Regions from separate parts of the Homo sapiens genome. Here regions 1 and 3 are each linked to region 2. The links come from fine-mapping of genetic effects on gene expression. A gene starts in region 2. Each other region holds a variant in brackets. All regions are shown on one strand. Distances are between the middles of the regions. Region 1 overlaps M1AP (meiosis 1 associated protein). Region 2 holds the start of DOK1 (docking protein 1). Region 3 overlaps SEMA4F (ssemaphorin 4F).

Region 1 (2,764 bases), 54 kb before region 2:
AAATGGAATTTTATCAAACCAAAAAGCTTTTGCACACCAAAGGAAACAATCAAAAGATTGAAGTGGGCCAGGTGCAGTGGCTCACACCTGTAATTCCAGCACTTTGGAAGGCCAAGGCAGCAGGATCACTTGAGTCTAGGAGTTCCAGACCAGTCTGGTCAACATGGTGAGGCCTCCATCTCTACAAAAAAAAAAAATACAAAAATAAGCCAGGCATGGTGGCATGCATCTGTGGTTTCAGCTACATGGGAGGCTGAGGCAGAAGGATCACTTGAGCCTAGGAGGTCAAGGCTGCATGCAGTGAGCCATGGTTGAACCACTGCACTCCAACCTGGGCAACAGAGTGAGACCCTGTCTCAAAAAAAAAAATAGAGTGAAGTAAGAGCCTACAGAATGGAAGAAAATATTTGTAAACTATGCATCTGACAAGGGATTCATATCCGGAATATATAAGGAACTCAAACAACTCAACAGGGAAAAAATGAATAATCTGAAAGCTGAATAAACATTTCTCAAAAGAAGACATACAAATGGCCACAGGCAGGTGCAAAAATGCTCAACATCACTAATCAGAGAAATGCAAATCAAACCCACAATAAAATATTACCTCACCCCAGTTAGAATGGCTACTATATAAAAGATTTAAAAAATAACAAATATTGGTGAGGAGATGGAGAAGGGGACCCTCCTTACATTTTTGGTAAGAATGCAAATTAGTACAGCCACTATGGAGAACAATATGAAGGTTCCTCAAAAAATTAAAAGCAGAGCTACCATATAATCCAACAATCCCACTACTGGGTATATACCCAAAGGAAATGAAATCAGTGTGTTGGAGAGATATCTTCACTCCCAGGTTTATTGCAGCACTGTGCACAGTAGCCAAGATATGGAATCAACCTGAGTGTCTATCAATGGATAAATGGATTTTTAAAATGTGGTATTTATACACATTGGAATACCATTCCTTCATAAGAAAGAATAAAAGCCTGTTGTTTGTGACAACATGGATGAGTCTAGAGAACATTATATTAAGTGAAATAAGCCAGGCACAGAAGGACGAGTACTGCATGATCTCACTCATTTGTGGAATCTAAAAACGTTGATCTCATAGAAGTACAGAGTTGAATAGTGGTTATCAGAGGCTGAGGATAGGGGGGAAGGGTGCATGAGGAGAGGTTGGCCAATGGTGCAAAGTTACAATTAGGAGGAATAAGTTCTGGTGTTCTA[C/T]TGTACAATAGCATGACTATAGTTAACAGTAATGTATATTTCAAAATAGCAGAGAGGATTTTGAATGTTCTCATCACAAAGAAATGAGAAGTGTTTGAAGTGATAGATATGCTAATTACCCTGATTTGATCATTACACAATGTATAAATGTATCAAAACATCACACTGTACCCGTAAATGTGTACAATTATTATGTGTCAATTAAAAACAAAATAAAACTTTAAAAAATGGACCAAAGACCTTATCAGATACCTCACCAAAGAAAGTACACAAATGGTAAACAAACATGAAAAGATGCTCCACATCATATGTCATCAGGGAAATGCAAATTAAAACAACAATGAAATACCACCACATACCTATTAAAATGGCTAAATTCCAGAACACTGACAACACCAAATGCTGGTGAGGATGTGGAGCAACAGGAACTCTCCTTCATTGCTGATGGGAATGTAGAATGGCACAGCCACTTTGAAAGATAGTTTGATGGTTTCTTACAAAACTAAACATACATTTACCATATAATCCAGAAATCATGCTTCTTGGTATTTACCCAAAGGAGTTGAAAACCTATCCACACAAAAATCCGCACTTGGGTATTTATGGCAGCTTTATTCGTAATTGCCAAAACTTGGAAGCAACCAAGATGTCCTTCAGCAGATGAATGGATAAATAAACTATGATTCATCCAGACAATGGATTATTATTCAGCACTAAAAAGAAATGAGCTATCAAGCTACAGAAAGATATGGAGGGACCTTAAATGCATATTACTAAGTGAAAGAAGCCAATTTGAAAAGGCTGCATATATATCCCCAACTATATGACATTCTGGAAAAGGCAAAACTATGGTGATATAGTAAAAAGATCAATGGTTGCCAAGGGTTGAGGAGAAGGAGGGATGAATAGATAGAGCAGAGAGGATTCTTAGGGTGGTGAAAAGGCTCAATATGATATTTATTATACTGATGGGTACATGTCATTATGCATTTGTCTAGACTCATAGAATGTACTACACCAAGAGTCAACCCTAATGTAATCTGTGGACTTTGGGTGATTATGATGTGTCAATATAGGTTCATCAATTGCAATGACTTTGGTGGAAGATACTGATAATGAGGGAGGCCATGTATATGTGGGACAAGGGGTATATGGGCTATCTCTGTACCTTCCTTTCGATTTTGCTGTGAACCTAAAACTTCCCTAAAAAATAATGTCTTTTAAAATAATAATAATAATAATAGTGCTTTAATCTACATCCCTCTTCATGGATCAAAAACATCTAAGTACAAATGAGAATTGCATATGTTTAATGATTACCGTCCAGTCTTTAAAAGTTCAAGAGGAAACTCCTAATAATAACATACAGTGGCCAGTCATGGTGGCTCACGCCTGTAATCCCAGCACTCTGGGAGGCCGGGGCGGGCGGATCACGAGGTCAGGAGTTCGAGACCAGCCTGACCAACATGGTGAAACCCCGTTCTACTAAAAATACAAAAAAAATTACCCGGGTGTGGTGGCACGTGCCTGTAAT
Region 2 (2,764 bases):
AACATGACCTAAGGAGGGTAGAGGGGGAAACACATTACCAGGAGCCATCAGAGGAAGTGAGTCACACGCCTGCACTAGTTAGGGTATCTACAAAGAAGAGACCACCTGCGAACAGACGCGGGGTCACCGGGTAGGCAAGAAAGGGGGATCCAAAGGTCAGAGCTTCCCACTTTCTGTCCTGCCCCACCCCTCCCACAGCTGCCCAACCCAGGAAGCCCTCCCGGACAGCCCCTGCACCTTGTCCCGGCCATAGCGACGCAACAGAGTGTAGGGCCAGGACAGGAGTGGCTCCAGTATCTGACTCTGGGCCCCCACGGTCAGGAGAGTCAGCCTTTCAGCCTCCACCCTCAGCACGTAGGAGCCATGCAGGCCACAGCGCTCGGCGGCCTCAGTCCTCTGCACCGTTACCCAGAATTGGGATCCTGGAAGGCATACACGATTAGACAGCTGCGGGGGAGGGACGGGGGCAGCAGTGGGGACCCAGAGGACTCATGAGCATAGTGTCCAAGCACTCACTCGGAAGCCAGATCTCAGGGCCTTCCTACTTCTTACTTCCCCATGGGCCCCTGGGTATCCACCCACTTCCCAAAGGCCCTCGGCCCTCCTCCTCTTCACTCCATCCCTGCCCGGGCTTCTGAGGCGTCTACCTTCCCAGGTAGGGCTGTACAAGGAGTTCTCCAGCATCTCCAGGGCAGAAAGCTTAGGTGGGTTATCGGTAGGCGCCAGAGTCCAGCTGCCTTTCTGTAGTAGAGAGCATCGAGAAACCCGTAATTTCCTCAGCGGGGAGCGGGGGTCGGTCTGAGGCAGCCCCATTTCTCTGCCTCTGTAACTGCCCCCACCCCGCATCGCCGCAGCTCCTCACCGGAAAGGCGTTTCGGCACAGCGTCTGCACCCAGGCTGCACTGGACGGCGCGTCGGCCGCCAGCAGGTGCGAGCGCTGAGCAGTGTCCAGGCGGAAGGCAGTGGCGCCGGGCTCAGGGGGGGTCTCCACGGTGACGGGGGCCACACTCACACACTCAGCCAGACGGATCACTTTGCAGTCCAGGCGGCGCGAGCTCCCTCGGCCACCCCCAGAGCTCGACCCCTTATGGTCAAAGAACTCGAGCCGCGCTACGCCGTGGGGACTGGCCGGGTAGAGCACGGCCCAGGTCTTCCTCCACCTCTAGGGAGAGAGAGAGAGTGCTCGAGAGGGAGTGGCGTGCGCAGGCGGCCCGGGTCCCGACGGGGAAGGAGGTTGCGGCGCAAGTCGATTTGGGATCTGGGGCTTCCAAACGGGGTTGGGGGCGAAGTTTCCCAAGGACGATGCCACTCCGTCTCCCCAGGACCAGAACCCCTAGACTACAGACGCTTCCCGGGAGTGTGCAAAGCAACTTCACGGGAAAGTCACAGGCTCTCCAACTCCCGGCGCCGCTCTCCAGCCCGCTGCCCACCTCTCCCTGTTTCTGGGCTCTCTCACCCACTACTAGCCCGGATAAGGTTCGGCATCCATGCGCCAGACTACCTTGGTCCCAAAGCGCTGACTCTGCAAAAAAAGCGGCCCTTCCATCACTGCTCCGTCCATGGCCCCCGGCGGTTCCTTCCGCGCTTCCTGGCCCTGCGGCGGGAGGCGGGGCGGGAGGCGGGGCCGGGTTCCCTGGAGGAGTTTCCGCCCCTCCCCGGCCCCCGCCGGCAGCCGCTGGGGGGGTCGCGGTGGGGTGAGGGAGAGGAGCGAGAAGGAATGGTGGAGACCCCCGGATTAGCCGGGAGCTGCAGCACCCCAGGCCCCTACCCGCCGTCGTGGGGGCGCGCCAGTGGCTCCACCGAAAGTCCTCGGTTTTGGCGCGAGGGCCCTGGCCTCTGGGCGTGGTGGCTGCGCGTGACGTCATATGCCCAAGGTGACGTCAGAGTGAAAGCCATGACATCACCCCGAAAGCGCCCCGGGCACCGGAGAGACCCACACGGGCCTCCGGGGCTTTATTTACCCTGGCCGGGCCCGCCCCCAGCCCCGCCCGAGCCGGGCTGTTTAGACTCCGCTGGCCCGGGACTCGGAGGGAGGGCTGGGGTTGAACCGCTTCCCGCCACCACCGGGGCCGCCCCGCCGCCCGGCCGCCGCTTGCATGTCAGCTCCCTGACCGCAGAGGCCTGGCCTCCATGCCGCGGGAAGAGAAAGCTTCATTGAACGAGCCGGGAGGGCCAGGGAGGGGGAGGGGGCGCGGCAGTGGCCAGCTCCACGGGGAGGGAGGACCCAGAGGAGGAGAGGAGGGAACTGGCCGGGAGGAATGGAAGGAGAAGGCGGAATGTGGGAGGGCTCAGGGGGATGTGGGAGGGACGAACGGAGAAGGGGGAGAGAGGGGGGTCCAGTCTCCCCTGGCCGAGCATTTTTTTTTTTTTTTGGAAGTCCTAGGACTGATCTCCAGGACCAGCACTCTTCTCCCAGCCCTTAGGGTCCTGCTCGGCCAAGGTAGGGGGAGTCACGCTAACCGCAGAGGGAATGAGTAGGGGATGGAGAGGATGTGGAGGGACCAGGGAAAACGGGTGGTGTGGGATGGAGTCGAGGGGAAGCCACCCAACTGAGAGTTTGATTCTTGTCAAAGGGCAAGTGAGACAGAGTACACGGAGGAGGCACATACCGGAGGCGGGGGCTACGGGTGTTCGAACAGGGCCGCCAGGAGCGCCCTAAGGGAGGGGGCTCCTCCGGGAGGCGCTGCCCCTGGGTCCCCAACCCAGAACAAAGCTGCCTTGTTGGATTGATTGTTTGGGTTGGGGGAAGCATGTTGACGGGGGC
Region 3 (2,764 bases), 110 kb before region 2:
AAAGAAATGCCAATCAAAATATATATATCATACTGGACTTTGTAGGAGGTCACTGTTTGTTTGTACATATTACTTGAGACTGGCAATGGGACAGGCCCTTTAGCCACTGCTGGTAGCCATTGCTGGTAGGACTAACTGGAGAGCAATTAATTTGTCCAAATCCATCAAGCACCATCAAAATCTATACTCTTACACCTAGCAATTCCACTTTTTGGATTGACTCATATGCAATTAAGTAGATTAATGCAAAGAATTATGTAAAAGGATTCCTGCTGCAGCATTATGTTTAAAAACAATAATTTTAAAATTTGAATGTATAATTATATAGAAATAATTAAGTCATGCTACATCCATCTGTGTATGCAGCACAAATTATGTAATTGTATGCAACTGCTAAAAATCATGTTTTGAAGAAACAATTTCTATGATGAGAAAATGCTCAGTATACAATAGTAAATGAAATATACATAATTCCAAGTTATAATAAATACGCAGACACATAGACACAGTAGAAGAAAACACTCAAAATACTCCAAAATAATAATAGTGGTTACTTGGTAATGATAGAATTACAAATAACATTTTTACTTTCTTCTTTATATATTTCTACATTTTCTCAATTTTCTACAATGCACATTGTAATTTTTACAATTTTAAGTAAATACTCCTATTATATTCTAATCATATTTTCATAATTAAAAGCTCTTTTCATTTCAAAATACTGCTATTATCTTTAAGGACATTTTTACAGAACCTAATTGGGAATTTTGGTTCTAATGATTATATAATGTTACCACTATTTCTATACTGCTATTTTCAAAACAGAGGCAAAGCAAGGCATAATGAATCATTCTTGAAAGCCCCAAGTAAATGCTAGCACTTATGTCAGACCAGGAAAAACTTTTAAATTATAACCCTGTAAAGTAATAACTTCAGATGAAAATGTATAATATTAGTATTGACTATGATTTGGATCTGAGACAGCTAGAGACATAGAGTTTCCACATTAACTGAAGCTAACCATTCTAAACCATTAGGAAGTGAGTTCTGATCGCCTCCATCAATTATCAACTGAAAGGCAACCCTGAATTTTATTTAAAAAAAAAAAAAGACTTAAAACCTTTTTGAAAATGTTCCTCCCACTTTGTCTTATAATGATCTTTATGGAATTTGTATTCTTGTGCTCGCTTCAGCAGCACATTTACTAAAACTGGAAATTTGTATTCTTAAACCACATTCTAATATGAATTCACTTGCTGACCTAATAAAGAGAAATTACTCACAGAGGGCTAAACATGCTTAAAGATTACTGCTTGAGGCCAGGTGCAGTGGCTCACGCCTGTAATCCCAGCATTTTAAGAGGCCGAGGCAGGCAGATCATGAGGTCAGGAGTTTGAGACCAGCCTGATCAACATGGTGAAACCCCATCTCTACTAAAAATACAAAAATTAGCCAGGAGTGGTGGTGGGCGCCTGTAATCTCAGCTACTCAGGAGGCTGAGGCAGGACAATCACTTGAACCTGTGAGACGAAGGTTGCAGTGAGCCGAGATGGCGCCACTGCATTCCAGCCTGGGCGACAGAG[C/T]GAGACTCCGTCTCAAAAAAACAAAAAAAAAAAAAAACAAAAATTACTGCTTGAAACAAAAGTACGATAAATGATTATCTTAGAGTGTTGCAAGTAAGAAGTCATTTTGCTGATAAACAATTTTATAGACTCAAGAGATATCACAACCACGAAAACTCAGAAATCTTTAATGACTCTGAGTGTCATCAAAGATGTTGATTAAAAACCTAGAAAAATAAACTATCCACTAAATTGTTTTATTCAAACATGTATAAGGAAGGTCTCATCAATTTCAACAATAGATAATGATAATCATGACAACTCAAAATATTGTATTTAGTCAATATATACTTTATGCTCATTTTCAAAAACTTTTTTTTATTTTTCAGAAAAAGATAAGTCATTAACTATAAGACTAAAGAGTGACTTAATGGCTGGGTGCGGTGGCTCATGCCTGTAATCCCAGCACCTTGAGATGCCGAGGTGGGCAGATCACGAGGTCAGGAGATTGAGACCATCCTGACTAACACAGTGAAACCCCATCTCTACTAAAAATACAAAAAATTAGCCGGGCATGGTGACACGCGCCTGTAGTCCCAGCTACTCGGGAGGCTGAGGCAGGAGAATGGTGTGAACCCAGGAGGTGCAGTTCGCAGTGAGTGGAGATTGCGCCACTGCACTCCAGCCTGGGCAAGAGATCAAGACTCTGTCTCAAAAAAAAAAAAAAAAAAAGAAAAAGAGTGATTTAATTTGTATAGCTTTTAAAACTTTCCCTAAAAAATAAAGTCATGCATAGGAAAAAATTTTCATTGTTAGATCTTGTGTCCCAATTTTTGTTTAACATAAAATATTTCCCAAAAATATAGGTAAAAATTAATTTTATGATAAAGTTGGCAAAAAAAGTCAGCAAGGAAAGAAAAAAACAGTATGATCAATGATGCTGAGTCAACTGATTAGCTAGCTGGGAAAAATTAATTTAGATCCCCCCTCATGCGATTCATCAAAATAATGCCAAATATTAACAGATCAAAGAGTTATATGTTTGGAAAAAATTTTTAAGAAAAAATGTTATCTGCTCTTTAAGTGAAGGATTGAGCTTAAAAATTATATACAATCACAAAGGAAAAGATATGTAATTGAAATACTAATATCCTACCTCTTAACTGGTCCAAGAACATGAGCAGAGGATTTACCAAAGAAGA

Evidence for each region. PIP is the estimated chance that this variant, and not a neighbour inherited with it, causes the effect. A credible set is the group of variants that fine-mapping cannot tell apart.
Region 1: its variant is the best candidate, but not a certain one, in a credible set for the expression of DOK1 in whole blood (INTERVAL, PIP 0.75).
Region 3: its variant is the best candidate, but not a certain one, in a credible set for the expression of DOK1 in whole blood (TOPMed, PIP 0.63).

What each region holds. Positions count from the first base shown.
Region 1 is chr2:74,607,610-74,610,373 of GRCh38, reverse strand. The region is part of intron 3 of M1AP (meiosis 1 associated protein); the gene reads left to right. Among named protein-coding and RNA genes, the nearest start is that of M1AP, 39 kb to the left of the region's middle. The variant C/T (reference allele first, on the strand shown) is at 1,231.
Region 2 is chr2:74,553,552-74,556,315 of GRCh38, reverse strand. It overlaps DOK1 (docking protein 1), which reads right to left and starts at 1,596. Exons shown (of 5, transcript NM_001381.5): 1 at 1,502-1,596; 2 at 863-1,162; 3 at 648-741; 4 at 238-422; 5 at 1-8. The coding sequence starts at 1,561. It overlaps LOXL3 (lysyl oxidase like 3), which reads left to right and starts at 2,374. Exons shown (of 14, transcript NM_032603.5): 1 at 2,374-2,440. RefSeq lists enhancers at 1,295-1,354, 979-1,496 and a silencer at 1,505-2,254.
Region 3 is chr2:74,664,759-74,667,522 of GRCh38, reverse strand. The region is part of intron 5 of SEMA4F (ssemaphorin 4F); the gene reads right to left. Among named protein-coding and RNA genes, the nearest start is that of SEMA4F, 12 kb to the right of the region's middle. The variant C/T (reference allele first, on the strand shown) is at 1,584.